Linked DNA regions of Homo sapiens. The protein of the gene in region 2 purifies or fractionates together with the protein of the main gene of each other region. This does not show direct contact. Each region holds a gene or a part of one and is shown on either strand. Other genes may lie near its edges. The genes, in order: TBC1D10A, PDE6D, LMNB2 and RAB28.

Evidence for each region.
Region 1: the proteins of PDE6D (region 2) and TBC1D10A purify together in Homo sapiens (affinity purification with mass spectrometry; 2 studies listed by BioGRID and IntAct, with this or other methods). This does not show direct contact.
Region 3: the proteins of PDE6D (region 2) and LMNB2 purify together in Homo sapiens (affinity purification with mass spectrometry; 2 studies listed by BioGRID and IntAct, with this or other methods). This does not show direct contact.
Region 4: the proteins of PDE6D (region 2) and RAB28 purify together in Homo sapiens (affinity purification with mass spectrometry; 3 studies listed by BioGRID and IntAct, with this or other methods). This does not show direct contact.

What each region holds. Positions count from the first base shown.
Region 1 is NC_000022.11:30,323,918-30,331,180, forward strand, and holds the start of TBC1D10A (TBC1 domain family member 10A), read right to left. Parts: upstream 3,025-7,263; 5' UTR 2,965-3,024; coding exon 2,756-2,964; intron 1-2,755.
Region 2 is NC_000002.12:231,771,265-231,778,288, forward strand, and holds part of PDE6D (retinal rod rhodopsin-sensitive cGMP 3',5'-cyclic phosphodiesterase subunit delta), read right to left. Parts: intron 1-7,024. UniProt on the Homo sapiens protein: Promotes the release of prenylated target proteins from cellular membranes. Modulates the activity of prenylated or palmitoylated Ras family members by regulating their subcellular location.
Region 3 is NC_000019.10:2,432,941-2,439,964, forward strand, and holds part of LMNB2 (lamin-B2), read right to left. Parts: intron 5,592-7,024; coding exon 5,435-5,591; intron 5,349-5,434; coding exon 5,223-5,348; intron 2,232-5,222; coding exon 2,061-2,231; exon of another isoform or gene 1,974-2,060; coding exon 1,848-1,973; intron 1,576-1,847; coding exon 1,355-1,575; intron 1,166-1,354; coding exon 886-1,165; intron 1-885. UniProt on the Homo sapiens protein: Lamins are intermediate filament proteins that assemble into a filamentous meshwork, and which constitute the major components of the nuclear lamina, a fibrous layer on the nucleoplasmic side of the inner nuclear membrane.
Region 4 is NC_000004.12:13,481,330-13,488,806, reverse strand, and holds the start of RAB28 (ras-related protein Rab-28), read left to right. Parts: upstream 1-4,466; 5' UTR 4,467-4,656; coding exon 4,657-4,731; intron 4,732-7,477.

The DNA.
Region 1 (7,263 bases), on a different chromosome or scaffold from region 2:
TTGAGACTGCGCCACTGCACTCCAGCCTGGGTGACAGAGCGAGACTCCGTCTCAAAAAAAAAAGATCCCTTACAGTGCAGTCTATGGTTTTTTTAATCTACTCATGCCATGTAGCTAATAGTCACCTCAGTAAGGTAGCCTGTGACCTGCTTTCTTACCCCCAGGCCTGGCAACTTCCACATCCAAAATGTCTTAAGACAACCTTTGGCCCAGGGTAGCTGAAATGGACCTTTAATCTGGAGTCAGAGTCCCCACCATCTCCACAGTACCCATGAGGGCTAACGTTTCACTTCTCTAGCATAGAACATGGACTCCTAGCCTTCAACCACGAGACTGGGTTCAGGGCGGTCACCCTGAAGCTTTCCATAACTTCCCCTCTATGGCCTTGGGCAGGGACTTACTCTTGGCTTTTTTGAAACCACAATATAAATTAAGTAGGGAACATCGAAGCTTTCAGATACCAGAGATTTTAGGTTGACTGACAGGCTCCAGAAAGTGAGGGAAGGAGAGAGGACTGGAGCTGGGATCCCACCTCAGCCCCAGCCCTACAGACAGCAGCCATGTAGAGGGTGTCTGCAGAGCCACATCCCGGGTTTGTGGTTGTGGGGTAAGAAAGACAGATGTCTGGCTGCCTGGTTGGGGACTACAGCCAAAGGGAGGTGCTTCCACTGGGGCCTCACTCTGCCCACAAATACCAGAGATATGCCCTCATTTTTCTCTTCATTTCTCAGACCCTTAGAAGGAAAGAAAGAAAACTAACATTTTCTGGGCCGCTACTTGTGACAAGCGCTGTGCCAGGCACCTTCACGTATCATATACTCATTTAACCCCCAGAGTAATGTTGGGAAGTGGGTGTTACTGTCGCCCTTTACAGTGAGTAAACAGGCTCAGAGATTCAGGATCTTGCCCAAGGTCACAAAGCTAGCAAGTGTAATTCCTAAGTTTGGCCTTTTCCTAATATATCACATTGCTCTGCACCCCAAGATCTGGTTGATTGCCTGATAAGCATGTAGTAGGAACTCTCATGCCCTAGCATTCTCCCACAAATCTGAGCTCTTCCTTCCAAGGTCCCATAAATGCAACTGGGAACTCCTTTCCTAGATCTCAAGACCACACACCTCCCTGGGTCCTAATCCCAGGTGACTGCTCCTCAATTCAAAACACTCCAGGTCCCCACTAAGTTCTCACAAGTGAATCCCTGGGGAACTGTGACAAAGCATCAGTCAGGGTGAGGGTTCAGAATGAGGGGTGCTCTCTCTGAGTCCTGGACTAAACCTAGCCTGCTGTGAGCCAGTAGGGAGATACTGGAGGAGACAGATCCAGTGGGTGAGAGGGAACTCCCCTTAGGGGAGGGGCCTGGATTTCTCCAAGGAAGAAGGAGGCCTGGTGAATAAGAGGCTTTAGGGCTGGGGAAAATCCCGGAAGTGACAGGGGTTCTTAGACAGTTAAAGCGCTTCCATAAGTCATGAGAGAGTCTGGGGTGACCTTGGACAATCTCAATTGGTCAGAGAAAGGGAGAAAGGATATTCTCTGGAGTAGGGTCATGGCAGGGCCCCAGGAGCTCCTACTGGTGATTGGGATGGAAAGCACACATCAGGAGGGAGTCTTGTCAGTTCTGTGCACAACACTGGTCTCACGTGACAGGACAGCTGGGATGGGAGTGGGGTATGGAGTCCATCTTTCCTAAGGGGACCGCCAGCCTGTACACATGATCTCTGAGGCCTGGGCTCGGGGGATTCTGTGGGGCAACATGGGGCCCAGCTTGGAGGCAAGGTGCTGTTCCACTGCCCCACATTTCTCTGTCTGCTAGCTGGGTGTCTGGGTGCTCTCGGGATAGGACATCGGGGGGTGCTAATATGAGCAGGGACCCTGCTGTCTCCCTGCCTGCCCCCGTCCCACGCCCAAGATCTGCCCTTGGGAGGAGGCGCATACATACACAGGACATACACAGAGCCCATCTACTGGCTCCTGTGGCTGCTGGAGCTGATGGTCTGTCCTAGTGGTGGGGCTCCCTGTCGCCCTGTACGTGCTGGGAAGGGGGAGTACCTGCCCACCTGTTGCCAGTGCCAGTGGAGGAAGCTGTGTATGAGCGGATAGGGGGCCCTTCTCCGACCCTTCCATGAGGAGAAGGGACTGTCTGTCCCAGGATGGAGCTGAGGGGAGGGAGGTGACCAATGTCTGTCCATCCAGAGGTCTGTATGCCTCGAGGAAAGGGTCAGTCTGTCCTGGGAAGGGGTGGGGGCGGGGCAGTCAGTCCTGAAGTCGGTCTGAGGTCTCCTGGTGTGGGGGCAGTGAGGCGGGGAGACAAGGGCGTCTGTGGGTTTGTGGGAGGGGGAAAGATGGAGAATGAGTGTCTATGGAGGGGGGCGCCAGCCATCTGGGAGCCTGTCGGGGTGGCAGAAACAATCATCCCTAAGGTCTTGGCGGCAGGGGTGGGTTTGGGGCAGTCTGTCATTCTGTTCCACGGCTGGAAGGAGGGCACAGTCGGTCCTTCCTGGGAGCGGGTCAGTCTGTCCGGAGGGTGGAGGTGGCGGGTGGAGGTGTGGGCCCGTCCGCCCCCTGGGTCGGAAGTAGGACTGCGAAGGGGGCGGGTCTAGGAAGGCAGGGGTGGTGGGGGTGGGGCAGGGGAGGGAACGGGGATTAGTGGTCCCTGCCTGGGAGGGGGACGTGTCGGCAAGTCCCGAGGGCGCCTCCGTCCGTGTCGAGGCCCCTCGCGTGGGTGGCGCGCTCAGTCCCGACCCCCGGCGCTACTCACGCGCCCTCGGCGCCCTGCGAGCCCACGATGAAGCCGAACTTGTCGATGCGGCGCTCGGCGAAGCCGTTGGCCTCCGAGTCAGACCCGAGAGAGCTGAGTTCGTCGGTGGTTGCGGCGTCGGGGCCCTGGGCCAGGCTCTCCCGGGTTCCCGACAGGCTTTCCCCGGCCGCGGGCGCGCGCGGCCCATTCTCTCCGTTGCTCTTCGCCATCCCAGCCGCGCCCGCCGCCTGAGCTCCAGCGGCCACCTCAGCCGCCCTGCTGCCGCCGACGCCCCGCCCACGCGCGGCGCCTATTGGCCGCCGCAAGGCCGGGGGGCGGGGCTCCAGGCCCACCCCGGAGCTCTCCCCCCACGCCCAATGGGCGCCGCGGACCCCGGGCCCCGCCCACCCTCCCCCGGCGGGCGCCAACAAGCCCGAAGTGAGGGGGCGGGGCAGCCGTCACCGCAGCCCTCCCCGCCCTCCTCCGGGCTGCCAATCACAAGAACTCACCTGGACGAGCTCGGGCCTTTCCGGGTTGGCTCCAAGCGGGGCCTGTCACCTACTGCAGAGCGCGAGCCGGAGGCCCAGGGCTTCCTCCATGGATTCCTCATCTGCCTCCTGAGCCCCGCTCCCTGCGAGACCCCAAGGACGTGGTAGGGATTGTTTGCCCCATTCATTTATGAGGAACTCTGAGGAGGCCCAAGTGAGTTCAGGGACGCAGAGCGGCTTAAAGGCCCAGCCTGAGCCAGAAGTCTGGCAGTCCCATTGCACTCACTGCTTCTGGGGCTTTAAATTACCTCGTGAGACCTAATTATTAATAATCACCAGCGTTTACTGAGCCACGCACGCCCGAAGCTCTACCTACTTTCTCCTGTAGTCTTTTCCCCAGCAGTTTTATGGAACATAAACATACCATAAATTCACGTTTAAAGTGTACAATGATTTTTAGCATATTTACAGAGTTGTGCAGCCATCACAACATTCTAATTTTAGAACATTTTCATCACCCCAAAAAGAAACTCCTACCAATTAGCAGTCACTCCGCATCCTGGCTCCCCCAGTCCCTGGCAACCACTAATCTGCTTCCTGTTTCTATAGATGTCCCTTTTCTGGATATTTCATATAAATGGAATTATACAATATATGGCCTTTTATGTCTGGATTCTTTCTCTTGAACATTTTCAAGTTTCATCCACATTGTAGCATGTATCAGTGCTTCTGGATTCACATCTGCCCCAGGTATGTCTGACTCCACCCCTCCCTTTCCTGGGATAGGCCCACACCGCCATGAAAGACCTATACTGCCCCTCCTGGGAGCTGGGACTATACCAGATTTTGTTTTTCCATTCATCAGTGATGGTCATTCGCGTGTTTCTAGTTTTTAGCCATTATGAATAATGCTGCTCTGACCATTCAGGTACAAGCTTTTGTGTGGGGGCCTTATGTTTACATTTCTCTTGGATAGATAAGGAAGAGTGGAATTGCTGGGTCATATGGCAACTGTTTAACCTTTCGAGGAACTGGCAAACTGTTTTCCAAATTGGTTGCAACATGTCTTGTAATCTCTTAGCAATGAGGTATACACCATTATTAGTCCCATTTTACAGTTAAGGAGACTGAGGTAAAGTCAGTTGCCTAAGGTCCCAGAATTAGCTGTGAATATAGCCAGGATTCGAACTTAGCTCTTACCAACTGCCTATATTTGGAGGGATGGGCCGATTTTATCTATATGGGCTTAGCCCCAAGCAGCTGATTTCTGACCCTAGAGATTGTCAACTCTTGGATCTATAATATAATGATAGCTCCTCGCTTATGTCTAGTACTTTATGGTTTACAAGTCACAGTATATTGTCATCTGACACTCCCTGCAGACCTGTGGGAGAGACAGGCCTAGAGAGGGGAAGGGACTGGAAGACTCAGACCTGGCTGCAGGGCCTGGGACAGACTATTCAGGGCCCCAAGGCAAGCCCCAAGAGGGGGTCTTGAGCCTTGAGTGATTTCACCTTGATGCCATGTGGCCTGGACATTCTTGATGGCGTCATTGTACAATCCTCACATTCCATGAGCTTCTGGCTTTCCATAAACAAGGCAAGAACAGACATGGGAGTGGGCACAGGCTATTTTGGTCTTAAACCCTCAGTCTAGGAGGATGTTCCTTCTCTTCAGTGACTCCAGACAGTGGTGGGCTCCTGGTCCCAGCTCCCAGGAGGGGCGGTATGGGTCTTTCATGGTGGTATGGGCCTATCCCAGGAAAGGGAGGGGGAGGAGCCAGACATACCTGGGGCAGATGTGAAGCCTCAAGTACAGCAAAGAAAAGTATCCACGACCCTTTGACTTCATGATTCTATCCCTAGGGTTATATCCCAAACATGTTCTTACTCAGCTCTGTGAGGGCACAAATATAGAGACGTTCACCCCAGGGATATTTGGGGAGGGGGTAGATTAGAGACCCTGAGTGTTCATCTTTAGGAGACTGTATAGATGTTACTCCAGTGATGCTTCAGCTTCTAATTTTCTTTAATCAAACCACCAGGATTTGAATTTATGCTCTGTGACCTTGAGCAAATTACTTCTCTCTGAGCCCATTTCCTCATCTATAAATTGGAAATTCTGAAAAAATTCTTCCTTGGAAGAATTGTGCTGAGACTTTAGTGTGACAGTATGCGCTAAACACCTGGCACATGGAGAAGCCCAGTAAATAATGGCCAGGAGCTGGGCGCGGTGGCTCATGCCTGTAATCCCAGCACTTTGAGAGGCTGAGGTGGGTGGATCACTTGAGATCAGGAGTTCGAGACCAGCCTGGCCAACGTGGTGAAACCCCGTCTCTATTAAAAATTCAAAAATTAGCTGGGCGTGGTGGCAGGCGCCTGTAATCACAGCTACTCAGGAGGCTGAGGCAGGAGAATCGCTGGAACCTGGGAGGCAGAGGTTGCAGTGAGCAGAGATCACACCACTCCAGCCTGGGTGACAGACAAGACTCCATCTCAAAATAAATAAATAAATAAATAAATAAATAATGGCCAGGAGTGGTGGCATTTGAAGCTTGCAAAAGGAATTGCAAATTCATTATTGTCTTGAGTGTTCCCCATCACAGCCTGTGGCTGCAGCGGGGGAGTTTGCCCAATTTAACCTATGGCACGTGGCTTGGGAGACTTCACTTCGTGGCTGTGCCCCTCAACAACTGGGTGTCCTTGTGTGAAATTGCTAACTTTTGTATTTTTTTGTAGAGATTAGGTCTTACTATGTGGCCTAGGATGGTCTTGAACTCCTGGGCTCAAGTGATCTTCCCGCCTTGGCCTCCCAAATTGTTGGGATTACAGGCGTGAGCCTCCATGCCTGGCCAAACTCCAGAGTTCTTTATTTAATACACCTATAATGAGCCAGACATTAGTGCAGGGGTGTCCAACCTTTCGGCTTCCCTGGGCCACACCGGAAGAAGAATTGTCTTAGGCCATACATAAAATACACTAACGATATAGCTGATGAGTTAAAAAACATTGCAAAAAAAAATCTCATAATGTTTTAAGGAAGTTTACAAATTTGGGGCCGGGCGCGGCTCATGCCTATAATCCCAGCACTTTGGGAGGCCGAGGAGGGCGGATCATGAGGTCAGGAGATCGAGACCATCCTGGCTAACACGGTGAAACCCCGTCTCTACTAAAAATACAAAAAATTAGCCGGGCGTGGTGGCAGGAGCCTGTAGTCCCAGCTACTCGGGAGGCTGAGGCAGGAGAATGGCGTGAACCCGGGAGGTGGAGCTTGCAGTGAGCCGAGATGGCGCCACTGCACTCCAGCCTGGGCGAAAGAGCAAGACTCTGTCTAAAAAAAAAAAAGAGAAAGTTTACAAATTTGTGTTGGGCCACATTCAAAGCTCTCCTGGGCCATGGGTTGGACGAGCTTGCTCTAGTGAATAAGAGAGATGAAGTCCTGGCCCAATAGAGTTTATAGTCCAGTGGAGGAGGGACAACATGAACAAGCACAGAACATCTATCAGGTAGTGAGAATAAGAAAATAAAGCCAGGTAAGGTATGGAGAATGCTGGAGTAGGTGTTGGGGAGGTGGTATGGGCTGAAAATGAGGGACCCCTTCTGCAGGACTGAGAATAGTGTACAAGCATGGCAGCAGATGATTTTCCCCTTGAAGGAGAAGGAGGCTGTGTTGTTAGATTGGAGTGAGAAAGCAAGGGCAACAGTGAACCAATGAATAAATGATCAGAAAGGAGCCCTGCAGAATCACGTGGTTCACTGGAATAAAGAATTTAAGAGGCCTTAGGCAATGCTGTGGAACATCCTGGTGAACTGGCTGTTGGAGACATTCTTTTGAAGATAGAATGTGTTGATATCCCAGAGTCTCATCCTGCTGGGGTCATTCCCAACAGCTGGGCTTGAGGATCTCACATAGGCCCCTCTCCTGGATCCTGGAATGTGCAGTTGGCATGTGCTCAGGAAACCTGTGAGCACTGGCCATGAGCAAAAGTCCAGATGCCCTTTTTTTTTTTTTTTTTTTTTTTGAGACGGAGTCTTGCTCTGT
Region 2 (7,024 bases):
AGCCAAGCTGAGAAAAATTTAAAACTCAAAATTAATAATACAACAACAAAAGAATAAATTCTCCAGAGAGGCATCATGGTATACTGTAGAAAACATGGACTTTTAAAAAGACAAAACAAGGCTTAAATTAAGGTTCTGCCTTCGTCTAAGTGACTGCCTCGTCGATCCTCAATTCCTTAGTCTATAAAGTGAGGATAACAATGAATAGGGTTGTTGTGATAATGCAGTAATATATCAAAGTTCTTTAAAAACCGAAAAGCAGTATAGAATTATGAGATATTACTAGACCATGCTGTTTCTTCTTGTGGCTATATTTACAGTGCTAATTTATATTACAGCTATTTATGTTTCATTCTCTAAATGTTATCTAAATTCAGAGGCAATAATTGCTCTCCTTGACTCTGAATCAGTTGTATCCACAATGCACTAAACCAAACACTTCAATACTGAGTGTCTCAGAGTTGTGTCAGAAACAAAAAGGAAACAATTGGGTCACAAAAAAACTTTTTGCCGATTTTAGGTGTAGAACATATCTCAATATAAACATTTGCCAAAAAAAGTACTTGTTAAGTAAGAAAGGCTGTCACCAAATCAAAGAATTGTAGTGCTGGAAAAGGATTTGAGTATTTCTGTAGATCATCTACTGTAATACACATTTGATACATACAAAATTTCCCTCTGCAACACTCTTGACAGACAGGCATCTATCTGCTGCTTAAAACACTTTCTGGAAAATGTCTTTTTTCAGGTAATTCTACTAATTGTTAGAAACTGGCCTAAACTCTGTCACCTGTAATTTCTACCCCGCAAATCTTGTACTTCCTCTGAGAGCTACACAGCAACATTTAATTCTTCCTCTTTAGAACAGTTGTTTTTTTTTTTTAACTTTAGAAGAGAATACTCATATCTCTTGTCCAACTCTTTTCATCTTTAGGTTAAACTCCCTTCAGTTCCCCCATTATTGAATGTATGCCATGTTTCAAGTGGCCCACCTTTATACCAGCTCCACTTTCCCCTGCCTCCCTTTGCAGTAGACTAAACAAGCTTTCATGTGTCCTACGGTGAGACCATCGCCTTCTTTGCCATAAACAGTAAGCTTTAGTCCAATCCATTGAAATCTTTGTGGATATTGGACTGTAAGAAATATATTTGCTTTTCTTCCCAGCTCCAAAATTATAAGCAGGTCAAAAGCAAAAAAGAATGCTGCTCTCAGAACTTTGACAATTTGAGTTTTACGCATTCAAGCAATTATTAGAATAGTCAGGCTGCTGGAGAAGATGGCCTTAAAATTCCTTCCTATGATGCTAGGCTTTAGCTCAGGAATAGAGAGGGATAGGTCTATAAGTCAAATCCTCTCATAACACGAGGATTTGTGGATGCAGAATGCTGACAAGTGAGGCCTGGGAGGCAAAACTGAGGTCAACCCTAGTAAGAACCTAGAGCTTCCAAGCCTCAGAACCATTGCTAGTCCTTTATCAAATGTAGTGGTGATACAACTGGAATTCTCCATGACAGTTTTACCGTGTTCTGTCCCATTTCTCCAGAAGTTACTGTAATGTTTCATTATAAACCATATACACAACCCTGGCAAGAAACTTAGAAAGTCAGTAGAAGACTATAAATATCTAATTATACACTAAATTCCTTCCAAAAAACAAAAGCAGGAATGCCTGTTTAAGAATCCTAAGTAAGGCCGGGCGTGGTGGCTCACGTCTGTAATCCTAGCACTTTGGGAAGCCAAGGTGGGCAAATCACTTGAGCCCAGAAGTTCAAGACCAGCCTGGGCAACATAGTGAAACCGTTTCTCTACAAAGAAAAAATACGAAAATTAGCTGGGTATAGTGGTGCACACCTGTGCACCCAGGCACTCAGGAGGGTGAGGCAGAGGATCATCTGAGCCTGGGAGGTCAAGGCTGCAGTAAGCTATGATAGCACCAGCCTGGATGACAATGAGACCCTGTCGCAGAAAAGAAAAAAAGAATCCTAAGATAATCAATAGGACATTATATTCATTTAATCCATTCAGGATAACAATACAAACTCTCAAGAGTCCATGCATGAGGAAACAAGCTACCAATCACAATCTACATGAAACTGGGCTTTATGAGTGGTATGTCTGGTTGCTTTCCAAGACTTTGGGTTGTCAGACAAAACCTATATTATGGGAAATAATAAACCTCAAATTCATTTTTAACATTTGGCCAAGGCAACTGTACCAGGGAATACTGACTTTCAAGAGAAGTTCTACAGTCGACTTTTCTTAATATGTCTACTATTCTTATTCTTTATTCTAAGTGAGTAAATAGAAGATGTAAAGCCAACTGTTTTTTGATTGGAAGCAAAGTCAAGGATTAAGGTACTATGAGAAAGAAGATACAGGGATTCCAGGACCAAACTATGGGAGAAGAAATGTAAGAAAACAAGTGAAAGATGCTTTCAGAAACCTTCTGAGCCCAAACTCTTTTTGCTAACCTGCCATAAATTAGAATGAGATTCATTTTCTAGACAAGATAAACATGAGGTATATATCAATGCTTATTGAATCATTTATTCAGAGGCAAAATGGAAATACGATAGTTTTTCAGTAAGAAAATATAACTAGAATGAAGGCATTAGTTATATCTCAGAGAAATAAGTAGCTTTACAATCATATTAACACTATTGTCATTATTATTATTATTATTATTGAGATGGAGTCTCACTCTGTTACCCAGGCTGGAGTGCACTGGCGTGATCTCGGCTCACTGCAACCTCCACCTCCTGGGTTCAAGCAATTCTCCTGCCTCAGCCTCCCGAGTAGCTGGGATTACAGGTGCACACCACTACGCCTGACTAATTTTGTATTTTTAGTAGAGACGGGATTTCACCATGTTGGCCAGGCTGGTCTTGAATGCCCAAACTCAGGTGATCCACCCACCTCGGCCTCCCAAAGAGCTGGGATTACAGGCATGAACCACTATACCTGGCCTGTCATTATTATTAGTAATTATTAATAAAATGAATGGCAGCAGATATTACTATATGCCAGGCCCTGAACCAAACATCTTTTATGCAGTTTCATTTAATTCTCAAAACAACCCTCTGATAATATGAGATACAGATGCTGAGGCTCAGAGTCTGAGTGTTCTGTTGAGAGTCACAATAGCAGAGGCAGTAAGTCTAAACCTTGGAAGTGAGCCCATACTCTCAACCACTGTGCTATATACTCTACTGCAGTAATGTGTAAACATTTGATAGATACCAATTACTTTCTACAGACACTACACACACACACATAAACCAAATGAGAGTGCCCCTTTCCCTCAATGTTGTGAACACTGAATATTATCTTTTTTTTTTTTTGAGACTGAGTCTCTCTCTGTCACCCAGGCTGGAGTGCAGTGGTGCAATCTCGGCTCATTGCAACCTTGGCCTCCCAGGTTCAAGTGATTCTTCTGCCTCAGGCACCCTAATAATAGCTGGGATTACAGCTGTCCACACCATGCCCAGCTAATTTTTGTATTTTTAGTAGAGACGGGGTTTCACCATGTTGGCCAGGCTGGCCTCGAATCCCTGACCTCAAGTAATCCGCCCACCTTGGCCTCCCAAAGTGCTGGCATTACAGGCATGAGCCACTGTGCCTGGCATCTTTTTTTTTTTTAATAAATTTTTATTTTTATTTTTTTTGAGACAGAGTCTCACTCTGTAGCCCAGGCTGGAGTGCAGTGGTGTGATCTCAGCTCACTGCAACCTCTGCCTCCTGGGTTCAAGCAATTGTCCTGCCTCTGCCTCTTGAGCAGCTGGGATTACAGGCGTGTGCCACCAAGTTTGGCTAATTTTTTGTATTTTTAATAGAGAGGGAGTTTTGCTATGTTGGGCAGGCTGGTCTCAAACTCTTGGCCTCAAGTGATCTGCCCACCTTGGTCTCCCAAAGTGTTGGGATTACAGGCGTGAACCACTGTGCCTGGCCTAATTTTTAATTTTATTTTCGTACAGTGCCACTTTCAGGATATACATATATATTATCAATCTTTTAAATCTGTGTCAATTAATTGGGAAGAGATAGTCCATTATTATTATTATTGACAGGGTCTCACTCTGTTACCCTGGTTGGAATGCAGTGGGGCACAGTCTTGGCTCACTGCGACCTCCACCTCCCAGGCTCAGGTGATCCCCTCACCTCAGCCTCCCAGTAGCTGGGACCACAAGCATGCACCACCACACCTGGCTAATTTTTGTGTGTGTTTTTTTTTTTTTTTTGTAGAGGCGGGGTCTTGCCATGTTGCCTAGGCTGGTCTCAAACTTCTAGGCTCAAGCAATCCACCCACCTTGGCCTCCCAAAGTGCTGGGATTACAGGCATGAGCCCCTGCACCCGGAAGATAGTCTATTATTTTAACAAGGTTGAGCATGTCCTCATTTATTCATTGGTCATCTGCTTTTTCTTCTAGGAACTGCTTGTTCATATCCTTTGTCCACTTTGAGTTAAATGCTTATCCTATTGATTTGTAGGCAGCCATTTATATTCTGGATATTATAATATCTGACGTATAAATGAATTAAATAAATAAATGGAGACAATAAGCCAATATTAAAAAAAAGCTACATTACTACTCTGTATCTTATACCAAAGAAAATTCAGATGGATTAAAGATAATGAAATCATAAAAGCATAATTCATTCTTATGGAAGTCTGTCAGTTTCTTGTTAATTTAATAAAGTTATATTTTTATGTTGATGAAAAAGCTATTCAAATAGGCAAAACAGTAGATACAGACTATACTAGAAAGCTAGTATAAGAGTACTGTGACAAATGCTAGGTGCAGTGGCTCACGCCTGTAATCCCAGCACTTTGGGAGGCCTGAGGTCAGGAGTTCGAGACCAGCCTGGCCAACATGGCGAAACCCCCTCTCTACTAAAAATACAAAAATTAGCCGGGCGTGGTGGCAGGTGCCTGTAATCCCAGCTACTTGGGAGGCTGAGGCAGGAGAATCGCTTGAACTCCGGAGGTAGAGGTTGCAGTGAGTTGAGATCACATCACTGCACTCCAGCCGGGGTGACAAGAGCAAGACTCCGTCTCAAAAAAAAAAAAAAAAAAAAAAGAGTACTGTGACAAATCTGTCAGTGAAAGCAACTGAAAGTAACTATCTTTGGAAATCATAAACATGGTAAATCTATTATTAAGTGAACAAAGTAAGTTACAAAGTGATATTTACAATTCCATTTTTATAAAAAACACATTAAACATTAGCTACATTAGAAGGCTATATTAAATAATATTTACAAAGGTCACTCTAGGTGGCTGGCGTTTGTAATAGGAAAATTAAATAGAATTTTAAAAAATGCATTGCTTTTGAAGATATTCCTTCTAAACAGACATAAAGCTGGTTAAGCTTCTGGAAAGAAGGGACTGTAAGTTATTCATTTTTGTATCCTTCAAGTGTAGAGTGCCCTATACATAATAGTCACCCAACAGACCTTTGTTGAAGGAACGAAATGGGAAACGTGGGATTTACAAACATCAATCTCTATGTCAGCTGCTTAAAATAATCAAATCCAAAATATTTGCAGGAGAATCATATTGTTCCCCAAGTAACATTTCATTCATAACATTAATTTACAATTAGGAAATGTTATGCTTTTAACAAACAAGAAAGAAATGCAAGGTTCTTAATGTGTATGAGAGCCTTGCATTTCTTGAGAGGTAGTATAGCGCCACAGTCCAGTATAGCTCTTAACCACTATGCTATATTACCTTGTATGGATCTAGGGATCCAGGAAAATACAAATCGAAACAATGTGTTGTCCAAACTGGCAAAAATAAAAAAGATTGACCTAGTCAACGTGGAAAACTGAGTACTATCAACACTGTTGGCAGGAGATCATAATGGTGCTCTTTTTGTAGTGATAAACTCTTCTCACAAAAACAGATACTCTGAAAGAGGTAGGGTGAGATGGGGTGAAGGTGATACAAGAATAAAATCTTATAAGATTTTGTTTTTGAAACAACTGATGGCAAATACAAAGCTTCTACTGAATTCACTCAGACCATGCCTAATTTATGCATACAGTATTCACTTTTATGCAGTATCTTTAAATTTTTTTTTTTTAGAGTTGGGGGTCTCGCTATGTTGGCCAGGTTGGTCTTGAACTCCTGGCCTTGAGCAATCCTCCCACCTAGGCCTCCCAAAGTGCTGGGATTACAGGTGTGAGTCACCATGCCCAGCCAAGTCCTCATGTTTCTATCTACTATGGGCATATGGGCAAGCTTCCATGTGAACAAAAGGGGCACATATTTGTAGGGACCTTAAACACACATATTATGTTAGTCACAGACCATTCTATTGTAAACTATACTAAATCATATTATAAAGCTATAATAATTCAATCAAATGTGTATAGGTACAAGAAGAGACAAATAGATCAATGAAACAGAAATAATCCAAAAAAAAACCTATGTCTTATGAAAATTTAGTATATGACAAGGATGGCATTTCAAAACAGTGAGGAAAAGATGGACTAACTACTTAGTAAATAGTACTGGAACTATTGGCTATCCAAACAGCAGAAGTACTTAGATGTCTACCACATACCAAATGTGTAAATACGTTCCAGGTGGATTAAAGAGCTAAACATTGAAAAGAGAAGAAAAGATAGGATATTTAGTTAATCTTGGGATAAGAAAGATCTTTTTAAACAAGATACAAAATGCAAAAGCCAGATGGCAAATATTAATAAATTTGAGGCCAGGCACGGTGGCTCATGCCTGTAATCCCAGCACTTTGGGAGGCAGAGGCAGGCAGATCATGAGGTCAGGTGTTTGAGAACAGCTTGGCCAACATGGTGAAACCCCATCTCTATTAAAAATACAAAAATTAGCTGGGCATGGTGGCATGCACCTGTAATCCCAGCTACTCAGGAGGCTGAGGCAGGAGAATTGCTTGAACCTGGGAGGCGGAGGTTGCAGTGAGCCAAGATTGCGCCACTGCATTCCAACTTGGGCAACAGACCAAGACTCCGTCTCAAACAAATGAAATAAAATAAATT
Region 3 (7,024 bases), on a different chromosome or scaffold from region 2:
AGCTGGGTCACCCCGTTACCCCCATGCCCCGGTCTTTCCGGTCACCTTGTCCCCTGCCTCGCATTGGCCGGCGGCCCCGTCACCCTGACCCTGATCACCCCCATCAGCTGGGTCACCCCGTTACCCCCATGCCCCGGTCATTCCAGTCACCTTGTCCCCTGCCTCGCATTGGCCGGCGGCCCCGTCACCCTGATCCTGGTCACCCCCATCAGCTGGGTCACCCCGTTACCCCCATGCCCCGGTCTTTCCGGTCACCTTGTCCCCTGCCTCGTATTGGCCGGCGGCCCCGTCACCCTGACCCTGATCACCCCCATCAGCTGGGTCACCCCGTTACCCCCATGCCCCGGTCATTCCGGTCACCTTGTCCCCTGCCTCGTATTGGCCGGCGGCCCCGTCACCCTGACCCTGATCACCCCCATCAGCTGGGTCACCCCGTTACCCCCATGCCCCAGTCATTCCGGTCACCTTGTCCCCTGCCTCGCATTGGCCGACAGCCCCGTCACCCTGACCCTGGTCACCCCCATCAGCTGGGTCACCCCGTTACCCCCATGCCCCGGTCATTCCGGTCACCTTGTCCCCTGCCTCGCATTGGCCGACGGCCCCGTCACCCTGACCCTGGTCACCCCCATCAGCTGGGTCACCCCGTTACCCCCATGCCCCGGTCATTCCGGTCACCTTGTCCCCTGCCTCGTATTGGCCGGCGGCCCCGTCACCCTGACCCTGATCACCCCCATCAGCTGGGTCACCCCGTTACCCCCATGCCCCGGTCATTCCGGTCACCTTGTCCCCTGCCTCGCATTGGCCGGCAGCCCCGTCACCCTGACCCTGGTCACCCCCATCAGCTGGGTCACCCCGTTACCCCCATGCCCCGGTCTTTCCGGTCACCTTGTCCGAGTTGTTCTTGAGCTGCACAAACTTGCCCTCCAGGTCGATCTCCTCGATGCTGACGCTACCCGAGGCCGAGGCCTGCTGGGCCAGGTGGAAGCCACCGCTGCCACCCGTGCCCGTGCCCAGGACGCTTGGGCCGCTGCCCAAGGGCTCCTCCACCTCCAGCCGCTTCCGCTTACTGCGGCCCAGGCGCCCGGTGGCGGACAAGCTGCCGCTGCTGCTCGAGGTGGCTCGTGAGACGGTGACGCGCGAGGATGGGCTGGGGGACAGCTTCAGCCTGTGGGGAAGGCAAGGAAGGTGGGACTGGTAGTGGGAGCCCCAGACAGCCCAGGGCACGCAGAGTGGCGGCCACGGCCCGGCCCCACCTCCACCCCTGCCCAGCACTCCCCGCAGCCCCGTCCCGCCTCTCCTCCTGCCCTGCCCCTCCTCCTCACTCTGTGCTCCCAAGCCTCCTGGCCTGCCGCACCTCTCCTCCTCGCCCTCCAGGAGCTTCCGGTAGGCGTTGATCTCCATGTCCAGGGCCAGCTTCACGTCCAGCAGCTCCTGGTACTCGGCCAGCTGCTGCTGCATCACGTCCCGCATCTCCGTCATCTCCTGCTCCTTGGCGTCCAGCATCTTCCGGAACTTGTCCCGCTCCCCGGCCATGGCCTCCTCCAGCTCCCGAATGCGATCTTCAGCGGCACTGGCCTGCGGAGGGGGCGGGTGGCGAAGGTCAGGGCAGCCCATGGGTCACAAGGCCCAGGTGATCCTGGGACTGCGGGAGATGGGCCCTCACCACAGACTGGGGCAGAGACCAGGCCTGGGCATGGGGCGCACGGGAGGGGAGGGAAGGGGCATCGCTGGGCGCCCCGAGGGCTGCATCCGATGCCAAGAGGCCAGAGCCCCACGCCCCGCACATCCAGGGCAGGGCCCAGAAGTTGGGCCAGGGGGACGGCAGACGGTGGCGCTGTGCTCATCACCTGCTTCTGGAGGCCGGAGAGCTGGTAGCTGAGGGACTCCAGGCGCATGCGGGCCTCCTTCAGCTCCTCGCGAGCCGCACTGGCCGCCTTGTCGTTCTGGTCAGAGCTCAGCTTGGCGCTGTCCAGCTGTGGGGAGACGGGCGGGTGAGTGCGGGCGCGGGGCGGGGCGGGGTTCCCACCGGCCGCCCCCGCCCACCCGCCTGCCGGCCACACCTTGGCCTGGTAGGTCTGCTCCAGCTCCAGCTTGTAGAGCCGCACTTGCTCGTCGTGCTGGCTCCGCAGCTCCTCCAGCGCCTGTGCCATCTTGAAGTCGTACTCCTGCTGCCGGCTGCTGTCCACCTCCACCAGGCGCCGCTCGTGCCGCCGCCGCGTCTCCCGCACCTCCTGCGGACCAAGGCTTCGTGACCCTCTGGTCCCGCCTGGGCCCCAAGCACCAGGCCCAAGGGAGGGCTCAAAAATGTGCCAAGAGGAACCTCCAGGCAATTCCTGGTTCCTTGTGCACAAGTTACAAACCGATACACGTGCAGGTGAGAGGCGACCCAGGGGCCGTCCACGCGCTAGAACGTGACTCAGCCACGAAAAGGAGCGAGGCTCTGACACCGCCACAGCATGGATGCACCTTGAGGACGTCACACTCAATGAGAGACGCCAGACACAAAAGGCCACACGGTGCGTGATCCCATTTCCATGAAATGTCCTGAAATGTCCAGGACAGGCCCATCCACAGAGACAGGGAGGGGATGCGTGGGGGCCAGGGCTGGGGACTGCTGATGGGGAGGGGGTTCTTTTTGGGTGATGGAATGTTCTAGAATTAGAGGTGGTGGTTGCACAACCCTGTGGAGATCCTGCCAATGCTGAACTGTACACTTTAAAAAGGTGGACTTAAAATAGCCAGGTGTGGTGGCGGGCACCTGTGGTCCCAGCTACTCAGGAGGCTGAGACAAGAGAATCGCTTGACCTTGGGAGGTTGCAGTGAGCCAGGATCGCACCATTGCACTCCAACCTGGGTAACAAAGTGAGACTGCGTCTCAAAAAAAAAAAAAGTGACTCTCTCTTATAAAAGCCATTATTGAAGAAAGCGGGCCAGGCGTGGTGGCTCATGCCTGTAATCCCAGCACTTTGGGAGGCTGAGGCAGGCAGATCACGAGGTCAGGAGTTCGAGACCAGCCTAGCCAACATGGTGAAACCCCATCTCTATTAAAAATACAAAAATTAGGCCGGGCACAGTGGCTCAAGCCTGTAATCCCAGCACTTTGGGAGGCTAAGACAGGTGGATCATGAGGTCAGAAGTTCAAGACCAGCCTGACAAACATGGTGAAAACCCCGTCTGTACTAAAAATACAAAAATTAGTCGGGTTGGTGGCACCCGCCTATAATCCCAGCTACTCAGGAGGCTGAGGCAGGAGAATCGCTTGAACCCAGGAGGCGGAGGTTGCAGTGAGCTGAGATCATGCCACCGTACTCCAGCCTGGGTGACAGAGCAAGACTCCGTCTCAAAAGAAAAAAATTAGCTGGGTGTGGTGCTGTGCACCTATAATCCCAGCTACTCGGGAGGCTGGGCCCAGTGTGGGCAACAGAGCAAGACTCCATCTCAAAAACAAAACAAAACAAAACAAAACAAAACAAAAACAGTAGAAACGCTTCTGAAGGAAGCTGGCCACCTTTGCAGTCAGCAAGGCGGGTAGCCCAGGCAAGCAGAGCCCTGCGGGCCGCGCACCCACCTCCACGGCCGCCCTCCCGCCTCCACGGCCGCGCACCCGCCTGCACAGCCGCCCTCCCGCCTTCACGGCTGCGCACCCACCTCCACGGCCGCTCACCCACCTGCACTGCCGCCCTCCCACCCCCACAGCCGCGCACCCACCTCCACGGCCGCCCTCTCGCCTCCACGGCCACCCTCCCGCCACCACGGCCGCGCACCCACCTCCACGGCCGCCCTCCCGCCACCACAGCCGCGCACCCACCTCCACGGCCGCCCTTCCGCCCCCACGGCCGCCCTCTCCAGGACTCCGCACCCTGTGGGCTGCACAGGCCTGCATCATCAAGCTCCCTACCGCAGCTCCCTGTGAGGGCCCCTCCAGGGCCTCTTCCCGGCCCCTGCACCGCCTTCGTGGGTCTTTTCCCAGGTGCCCTGTGGGTTCCACCTGGGGCACGTTCCTGGGCCCCCGCACAGAAGCTCTCGTGAGTCTCTTCACGGGCTGTCTCACAGGTTTCCCCACAGGCCCCTTCACAACTGCCCTGGCGGCCTCCCCTCTGGCTCCTGTGGGGCCCCCCCCACTCCCTGGGCCTGGCCAGAGCGGGGCGCAGCTCCTGAGCGGCCTGGACATCCCTCCACCAGCAGCCAGCAGCTCTCCCTGGGCAGGGAGTGTGGGCCCGGCCGGCCCCGGCATTCCACCCTGCACTGTGACAGCACAATTGGTTCTAAAGGACACAGGCTGACGCCTTTCCTCCCCACTCCCCTCTCCGAGCCCCCGGAGGCAGAGGCCCCAGGTGAGGGGCTGCAGGTCAGGGAAGGAGGCTGGGTGGGGAGAGCGGGCCTCACCCTCGCTTTGGACAAGGAGGCCCTGTGGGAGGCTGGACGGTGGCACCCAGAAGATGCACCTGACGCCTGCCTCATGGTCTAGCAGTTAGGATCCCAGGCGGCCAGGGTTCAGCTCTCAGGGTGGGAACACCAAGCTTTTAGAAAGGCAAGAAATCAAAATAGACCTTCCTTGACACTGAAGAGATATGTTTTGGCTGGGCATGGTGACTCACGCCTGGAATCCCAGCAGTTTGGGAGGCCGAGGCGGATGAAGCACCTGAGGTCAGGAGTTCGAGACCAGCCTGGCCAACGTGGTGAAACCTCGTCTCTACTAAAAATACATAAATTACCTGGGCATGGTGGTGCACGCCTATAATCCAGCTACTCGGGAGGCTGAGGCAGGAGAATTGCTTGAACCTGGGAGGCGGAGGTTGCAGTGAGCCAAGATCGTGCCACCGCACTCCAGCATGGGTGACAGAGTGAAACTCCATCTCAAAAAAAGACGTGCCCACATCCCGATCCCCAGCAGCTGTGAATGGACCTTATTTGGAAATGGGGTCTCTGCAGATGCCATTAGGTCACTCTGGATGATCCAGGCAGGCCCCAAATCCAATGACAAGTGTCCTTGTAGGATACACAGAGTATGGACACAGGGGAGGCAGCCGCGGGAAGACAGAGGCAGACACTGGGGAGACGCAGCCGAAGCCAAGGGCACCCTAAGAGGCAGGAAGGAGCCTCCCTAGAGCCGTGGGAGGGACCCCGGCCACACGGTGCCCTCAGGCTTCCGCCCTCCACAGCCATGAGGGTGGACTTTGCGTTTCCGCTGTGCCAGGCTGGAGGCCAGGCCACTCACTCACCTCCTCGAACACACTCTTCCGGAAGTCCAGCTCCTCCTGCAGGCTCTGGCAGCGGTTCTCCAGGTCCACACGCATCAGCGTCTCCTTCTCCAGCTGCTTTTTGGCCACTGCATGACCGTCCTCGGCCTGGGAGACACAGGACAGCGAGCTGGTGTGACAATCTGTCTGTTGCATATACCCTGCTGGGGCGTCCCGTGGCTCCTGGCACCTACCTTGGCCAGCTGGGCCCGCAGCTCAGCCACGTCACTCTCCAGGCCGCGCTTGTCGCTGAGGGCAGCTGCCAGCTCCACCTCGCTCCGGTGGAACAGGGACTCCAGGTCCTTCACACGGCCCTGGGCCACCGTAAGCTCGCCCTCCCTCTTCTTGGCGCTGAAAGTCAAGAGGGCAAGTGAGTGGGGAGGGGCAAGGTCCATGGGGCCACAGGGAGCACCTCAGGGGGCGTCAGGCAAGCCCAAAGACAAGGTCACCGAGGCCTCCGAGCCCCAGACCTTCCCGTCCTGCAGACGACGCGGCCCCACGCGCCCAGGCAAAGGCACACGTGCCCTCATCATCTGCCCTGCACTGTCAGGAGTCCAGCAAGTGACAGGCACCAGCGCTTGGGACCACCCTGGAGGCATGGGCTTTCCCAGCCTCTCCTGCCTGTTCTGGACCCAGGACGACCATTTGGGGAGAAATTAATGCATCCTCTGTAAATGTTACAAAGACCCTGGCCTTTGAAGGGTCAGCCTTGTTTGTAAACTTAAGCTGTCTGAAGCAGGCTCACCTGGTTTTCCACTAAACCAAATTAGCTCCAACATTAGATATTTAAGATAGCAAATACTCAGGCTTTTTAAACACACAAATACTACCAGTGTGGATTGTAGGCACTTAAGCTTTTTTTTTTTTTTTTTTTTTTTTTTTTTTAAGAGACAGGGGTTCACTTGTTTGCACAGGCTGGTCTCGAACTCCTGGGCTCAAGGAATCCTCCTGTCTCAGCCTCCCAAAGTGCTGGGATTACAGGTGCGAGCCACCGCGTACGGCTGACTCTTAAATGTTTTTAAGCATAATTATAAGTCTTGGAGCTGAATTTTACCCCCTCCCGACAGGGAACTAACTATATCCTCCCAAGAAACAGTGAGGACACCCAGGGTTCCGCAGCGTCACAACTGCTGACATCTGGGGTGGTCTTGAGTGAGGGCACCCAGGGTTCTGCAGCGTCACAACTGCTGACATTTGGGGTGGTCGAGTGAGGACATCCAGGGTTCCGCAGCGTCACAACTGCTGACATTTGGGGTGGTCCTAGGCACTGCAGGGTGCTGAGCACTGTCCCTGGCCTCCACCCACTTCAGACCAGGAGCTTCTTGCTGCCCAGTTTTGACAACCACAAGTGTCCCCAGGAATCACCCAGTGTCCCCTGGGGACAGAATCACCCCAGGATGGGGACAACTGGGTGTATCTGGAATAACACAGCCAAGGCTGCTGGCTGGACATTCAAAGAACATCCACATCCAGGCGGCTCGAGCCCGTGGCCAGAGGTCAGAAGTGACAGGGACCTCTCCTGCCCAGCAGAATGCACTCCCGACTCTCCCTAGAGCCTTTTTTTTTTTTTGAGTTGGAGTTTCGCTCTTGTTGCCCAGGCTGGATTGCAATGGCGTGATCTCGGCTCACTGCAACCTCCGCCTCCCGGGTTCAAACAATTCTCCTGCCTCAGCCTCCTGTGTAGCTGGGATTACAGGCATGCGCCACCAGCGTCCGCTAATTTTTTATTTTTAGTAGAGATGGGGTTTCTCCATGTTGGCCAGGCTGGTCTCGAACTCCCAACC
Region 4 (7,477 bases), on a different chromosome or scaffold from region 2:
CTGTAATCTATTTGTATGACGTTTACAAGCTGGTAAAACTAATGTACAGGACTAGAGATCATAATAGTAATCATTGAGGAGGTAATAACCGAGAGGTGGCATGAGGGAGTCTGCTGGGATTCTGAATTGTTCTATGTCTTGATTCAGATGGTGGTTAAACATACAACATGCACATGTATATCTATGTAGATGTGCATACAACCCATGGGAGAACAGAATTTTAGGAAGAAAGCCTTATTTTTTAAAATTTTGTCCTCAAGGAGTTTAACAAACCAATTAATTCTAGGGATTAGTTCTGTATTTTTCTTAGTTTTTCAGCAGAACTATACAAATACAGAAATACCAAGTGTACAACCTGGAAGCATGGCCAGTATTTAGCCTTACTCAGACATTAGTCCTAGGATCTACATCTTCAAAATTGTGAAATAGTGCAAAAAGATGAAAACTGATGGATGACATTGGATTTGTTGAGAAGATGTCAGAGACTGGTAGTTTCTGAAATTAGTTCCTTCCTTGATTCGTTTACCATTTTCCCACCTTCATTATTGATGAATAATAATGTTAAGATATTTTTACTCTATTTCATCTGTCACCTGTTTTACTATCTTTTTAATGTACCAGAATATGAAACTGTCTTGATGATTTACTAAATATCTGTGTTCATCCTTATATTAGTTATCTATGGCTATTGTAAAAAATTACCATAAACTTGGTAACTTAAAAGAACATAAATGTATTCTCTCACAGATCTTGAGGTCATAAGTCCTAAATCAGTGTCACTGCACTGAAATCAAAGTGTCAGCAGGGCTGGGCTACCTCCAGAAGCCTGAGGATAATTTGTTTTTTGCCTCTTCCAGCTGCTAGTGGCTGCCAGCACTCGTTGGCTAGTGGCTGCATCATTCCAGTCTCTGTCTCTGTGGTTATATTGCCTTCTCTCTTATAAGGATACATGTGATTGCATTGAGGGCCCACCAAATAATCCTGGATAATCTTCCCATCTCAAAATCCTTAACTTAATCACACCTGAAAGATGCTTTTCCAAATAAGGTAACATTTACAGTTTCCAAGGATTAGGACCTGATATCTTCATGTGGCTATTATTCAGCCTACATATCCCTCTACCAGAATGTAAATTCCATGGGAACAGAGCTTTTGTATGTTTTTTTTCACTTATGTGTTTTCAGTGTTTCGAGGAGTTGTGAACAAGAATGCCTGGTACACAGTAGGCAGTCACTAAATATTTGTAAATTTAATGAAGTTTTGTTTGTTTGTTTATTTTTGGAGACAGGGTCTCATTGTGTCATCCATGCTGGAGTGCAGCGGCATGATCACTGCTCACTGTAGCCTTGACCTCCCAGGCTCAAGTGATCTTCCTATCTCAGCCTTCCAAGTAGCTGGGACCACAGGCGCCTACCACAATGCTTGGCTGGGTAATTTTTGTTTTTTAAAGTTCTTTTAGAGACAGGATCTCCCTATGTTGCCCAGGCTGGTCATGAACTCCTGGGCTCACGTAACCCTCCTGCCTCGGCCTCCCAAAGTGCTGGGATCACAGGTATAAGCCACCATGTCTAGCAGTCACTAAGTATTAATGAATCACTTTGATCATCTTCCTGTGGAATGGGGAGTTTTCGTTTTATTGAGAAAGACATACCTATTATCATTAGCTGTAATTTATAGTGATAAGCTTTGGCTCATCATCAGAGATAATATTTTAATAACCAGGCCTATCCATCTACAGGCCAGGTTGCTTCATAAAGGAAGAAACTCCTTGAATGTGGACGTATTCAAATAAGGTTTGAATAATTATCTGTTAGAGATGCTATAAAAGATATTTTATACAATGTCTAGAATTCTTATAAACCTTTTGTCTATTAGTTTTAAAATGACTGAAGACCATTCCTCTAATTTTTGACCCTGTTAAGAGCATTGTACATGAGAATCCACAAAGATATATTCTTTTTGGTGGATCAGCTCTATGTTTCTTTAGTATGTCAGAGTATCATACTGGAAGCTCTCAATGCTAAAATGGTCCTCCTCACATAGAAAGTTTTTTTTTCTTTTTCTTTATAAAAATGGCTCTAAGTCTTTAAATTCTAACTTTTAACCCAGAAACTTGCCATATGTGTAAAATATGATCCCTAAAATAGTGCAACTTTTTGTTTTATATAACACTATCCTATTGATGTACCCATATCCAAATGAATGTTGTCTCTCAATCAAAGCAGTCATCTCAGAAATTGATGAGTGGAAAATGAGAAGCTTTCTTCTAGATTTCCCTTCATATAAAACCACATATGAAAATCAGGCCTATGAGTTCAGCTAAATCTAGTTTTTGGCCGAAGTAGTTATGTCAGTTGGAATTTTTTTGTTTGTAGGTAACACAATTCATCGCCAAAGTACCATATTATTATTTCCCATAACAAGAAACCGAGAAGATAGAGTGAACAAAGTGTAGTAGTTCCAAAAATCCTGTTCTTACCTAATAATGACAGCAAAGGAAGGGAGGAGGAGGACTCCCCTGTAACTCTCCTTTTTTCTTTTCCTTTTTTTTAAATGGTGGGGGGAGGGTTCTTTTACAAATGTCTTCCAAAGGACACTGTCTTCTGTCTCATTAGTCCGGTGGATCACATAGCTATCTAAGGAAGACTGGAAAAGAAATTTTCTTGCATTTTAACTGCCCTCATGGACAAGAAGTGGTTAAGTCTGTCCTCACTGGAAGTAGATTCTTCTCACTAACAAGTACATATCCTCTTTCTTCTAATTCTTATGAATAAATCTGGTGAATAGAAAATTGGTGGTGGCAATGGTGGTGCGGGATTGGGGAAAGAATTGGGTACTAATACTTAACTGGGTACCTATAATTGTGGGCCAGCCCTCTCTGCAGATGAAGAGACTGAGGCTCTACATAAGAAACTTGTATAAGGTAAATTGGCTAGAAAGTAGTGACACTTCCAACACGGACCATCATCTAATTATGATGATGATGAGGGTGATAGTTACACTGGTTAATATTGAGTGCTTACTACACACCAGGCATTGTGCTATCTACTTTATGCCGATTATTTCATTTAATTTTCAAACCTACACAAAGGCAGTAGTCTGTTCTACAGGTGAACTAACTGAGGCTCGAGGACACATATCTAGTAAACATGAGATTAAACTCCAGTGATGCCTCTAGGTCTGGGCATTTCTTTACACTGTTCTGCTTTCCTGTTCTAATGCCCATATGGTCTCCAAGACTACTGCCTCTGGGCTAAGCATTTTGTTAACTTAAGATACTTCATCTGCAAAATGGGGATAATTATACTTCATAATTCCTAATAGTAGTAAAGGTAACAATAAATTTTAAGTGATTAACAATGAAACAACCATAGCAGGACAGCATTATTATTTTTGAATTTACCTCACTAAATTGTAAATTTCATTTATGCCGTTTACCTAACGCTCCTGGACTGAGATTATCCAGGGCAGCAGTTCTTAAATTTTTTGGACTCAGGGCCTCTCTATAATGTTAAAGAATTACTGTGACCTCCAAAGAGCTTATGTTTATGTGGGTTACACCTATCACTACTGCATTGAAATGAAAACTGAGAAATGTTTAAAAACAACAAACGCAAGCTCCCTTAGCTGCCAGTGATGACGTCGTACACAAAGCGTATCCTCCAGGAAACGGTATACTAGTGAGAGAAGGAACGTGAGAAAGACAGACAAGGTGTCCGTATTATTATGAAAATTGTTCTGAGGTCATCGGGATTTCCAGAGGTCCCTAGACCACACTTTATGAGAACTGCTGCCTTAGGGTAAAGATGGGGTGCCAGGAGGTTGGCGATCAGTAGCGTCTGATGAACGAACCATGGGAGCCTGGGGTTGTTCAGATGAGGAAACCAAGAGTTAGGCCGAAATAAGCAGCGCCGGAGCTCCACTGTATTCACGGCCGCTACTGAGGCTTCCCAGCAGCCTCGGCCCTTAGCAGCTGTCCCCTCATCCGCCCCGAGGTACCCTCTTCCCTGGTCCGGTTTTTCAGGGGCCCTCTCTGGCGCTCTCCGCCAGGCTACGGGCGTCCCGGGTGCCCGGAGACAGGCCCCGCCCCGCCGCCGGTCCTCGAACTCCTGGCTGCCAGGCAACCCTGGCGCGTAGCCCGGGCGTCACTGCTCCACCCCGTCAGGCTGAACCATTCCCTTCAGAGACTTTCTCAAGAGGGAAGGAGAAAAGGGAATTTGATGGAACGCCTGAAAGCTGCTCTGCTCCCGTTTTCTCTCCTTAATTTGAACGAACACTTCTTTTCTTCTTCTAGCCAACTGTCTCCTGAAGGGAAACGCAGCGCCTCGCCTCTCCCGCCGGAATGTCCCCCACACCAGTCCAGGGCCGCGAGTGGTTCGGCTCGTCAGGCGGGGCCGCCGGTCGGCGCGGGTTGGCTCTGAGGCGGGGGCGCGCGCCCGACGTGCGCGTAGGGGGCGGGGCCGCGCGCAGAGGGCGGGGAGGTGGGCAAGATGGCGCTTGCCGAGTGATTCTCCTCGAATACCTCCTGCCGGCGCGGAGACACCGGGGCGGGGGTCCTGCCGCAACTACCTCCCTTCCTCCTCTCCCCCGCCCCCGGAGCCTTCATCCTTCCCTTCCCCCCCCACCTCGAGGGGCGGGCCTGGTTCCCGGGACACCATGTCGGACTCTGAGGAGGAGAGCCAGGACCGGCAACTGAAAATCGTCGTGCTGGGGGACGGCGCCTCCGGGAAGGTCAGTCCTCGAGCAGGCCCGCCGTCCCAGGCCTGCAGGAACCCCGGCGGTCCCCGGCCTCCTCCCCGCCGCCCGGCGTCGCCTCGTTACCCCGAGCCCTCGGGCTTCTAGGCCCGGGCCCTTCTGGTTGTGTGGCCTGAGGCCGGACACGAAGTGGGCGCTTGGTGAAGGCCGACGAGAGCTGTCCAGCTCCCCCTTAAAAAAGAGTCACTTCCTAACTCCCCGCCTGGATTGCGAACTCCTGCAAGACTCGGGCCAGCCTTTCAGCTTCCCGCCTCTCAGGACTGGCAGGGATTTGCCAAGGCATCTTAGCTCCTCTTACTTGTAGTCTGGGTCACACTTACTCCTCCCCTCCCACCCCCTTTACCGTTTCTGATGCTTCTACTGCATCGTGAGCTCCCAGGAGCGTAGCTCTGGAATCAGTATTCCCCGGGTGAGAATTGGGGCTCTGCCACTTAGTCGTCGGGTCATTGGAGGGCAAATTGCTAATCAGTTTAAGCTTCATCTGTAAGATGGGTATTGAAAAGGGCCGCCGCAAAGGGAGAAATGTGAAAATACATATTAAATGTGAAAATACACATAAAACCTTTAGAGCACAGTGTCCACTCAGTACACTCTAGTTGCTATTTTAATATCATACCTGTTCATCACCTCTGTTTCCAGCTCAGCACTCGATACAAGCAGTCAGTCAACAAGTGTTTATGGAGCTCCTGTTACGGGTAGGATGCTGAGGGTAGAGCTGCTTGCGTGACAAAAGGGATCCCCTGTTCGAATGAATGAATGCGGGCGTGAGAATATCAGGCAGCGTCAGTCTTATTATCTCCTAGGCAGGGGCTCCTACCCCAAGGCTGTGGAACTCCTGAAATGGAGTAAATACTGCCCGGTACGTGCTCTGGGGAGAGGGTCCATAAGATCTCAGAGGGGTCTATGATCCCTCCACCAGCAAATAGTGAAGAGCCTCTACCCGGATGCCTTCTTTCCCATGCTTCTGTCAAAGGCGCCAACACTTTCTGGGAATATTGCTAAAGTTTATCACCCCTGTACTCCCCTTCCTTATCCCAACCATAGTCTAAAGAAACCCAGGCTTTTATTTCCTGTTTAAGGCTTCACATTTCCCTGTTGCTGGTTGCATTTCGGACCCTGGTTTCTCTGGTGACGACTTCTCTTTGCATCCTCCCTGACAGTTGGCACTGCCCAGATACCTGCTTCTGCCTTTGGTTCTGACATTTGAGTTTCGAGGTCACCTGGGAAAGATGTAAAATTTTATATGCAAAATTTGAAGTATTTTTTTGTTTCTTTCTTGTCTTCTTGGATCCTTTGTTACAGATTTTTAAAGCTGAGGAAAACAATATGCTCTGATTACCTTTAAACGTTGGGGGAAGAAAGGAACTTGGGGTAACTTTTCTTTATAAAGTATATTAATTTTTGTATACTTAGTAAACTTTTCGAATGAATGAATTGCTATAAATAAATCATTGTTTCTAACACCTTTATTCAATAAAAAGTTTGTTAGATTTTTATAGTTTTCTCATCATTTAGATTTTCTTTTGAAGGCCGTCTAAGGTTTTGGCTCTTAAATTTTACTGTATTCAATTCATAACTGATCTTATTTCCCATTTAAAATGATAATGACAACTCATAACAATACATTTGTAAAAAGACACAAAAATTGCTGGTTATCCTATATGCTATCATAATTCTTTAAACTGTTGTTCATTTTTCTAACAGTATTTATTGTACATATATTACTTAGTGAAATTTGTTCATAATTTTGCGTCTGAGTTTTTTATTTAGCCTATCATACATGTTTCCTCTTTGTTGCTAATTTAGTGTGAATAATTATGGTTTTTTATCTCTGTTTAAAATTTTTTCTTGTATAGGACAGGATAATTTTTTCACTTCCATGTTTTTGAATTAGTATTATCATTCTGCTTCAAAGGATAACAGTTAATATTTTTTATGGTGCTCTGACTTAATCTTCATTATCTTGACTAAATAACTTATTTTAAAACTGTAACAGCTTTTTCTAACAGGAACTTCCAGACACAAACATCTGACACCTAACCTTCTTTCATTATTCTTAAATCAAGAATTTTTTTCTCCATACCCTATTCAGTTCTCAAATACTTGGCAGCCACCAACATTCCCATTCTTTTTCCTTTATTGTTCTTTTCTTTGTGAACTCAGCCTCTCTTTCATTCTTACTTGTATCCTGATTTAACTCTTGGCTCTTTTTTCCTGGCATTTGTTTTTCCTGCTCAATCTAACTCTGAGCATTTTTCAACACACTGACAGATGCAATAGAGTATTGAGATGATGACTAACAGTTTCTCCAAGAGAAATTTAGCTCCTCCTTCCAGTATCACGTGTTTCTATTTCTTTCCTTTTCTGATTCATATTTTTTCTTTTATTACATAGTCTCTTAAGAGCTTTTTGAGGCAAAATATTCTTTTTTTTTCTGTCTTTTCAGTGTTTGTAAATGTAGCATGGTTAAAAAATGTTAGTAGAAATTTACCAAGTCAAAAATGTTAGTAGAAATTTTCCAAATCAAAAAATATAAAGATTCAGATAAAAATATTTCTGATATGGGAGCTAGTTGTTCACTTAATACCTGTAATTAAGAAGGGTATTTATACAGTGACTTGAGAAATTATTGAATGTGAAAGATAGCATGCAGTCTAGATAAGTGAAGAGAAAGTGACCCCCACTGATTCAGTTGATTCTCTGTTCAATTTTTATCTCAAGA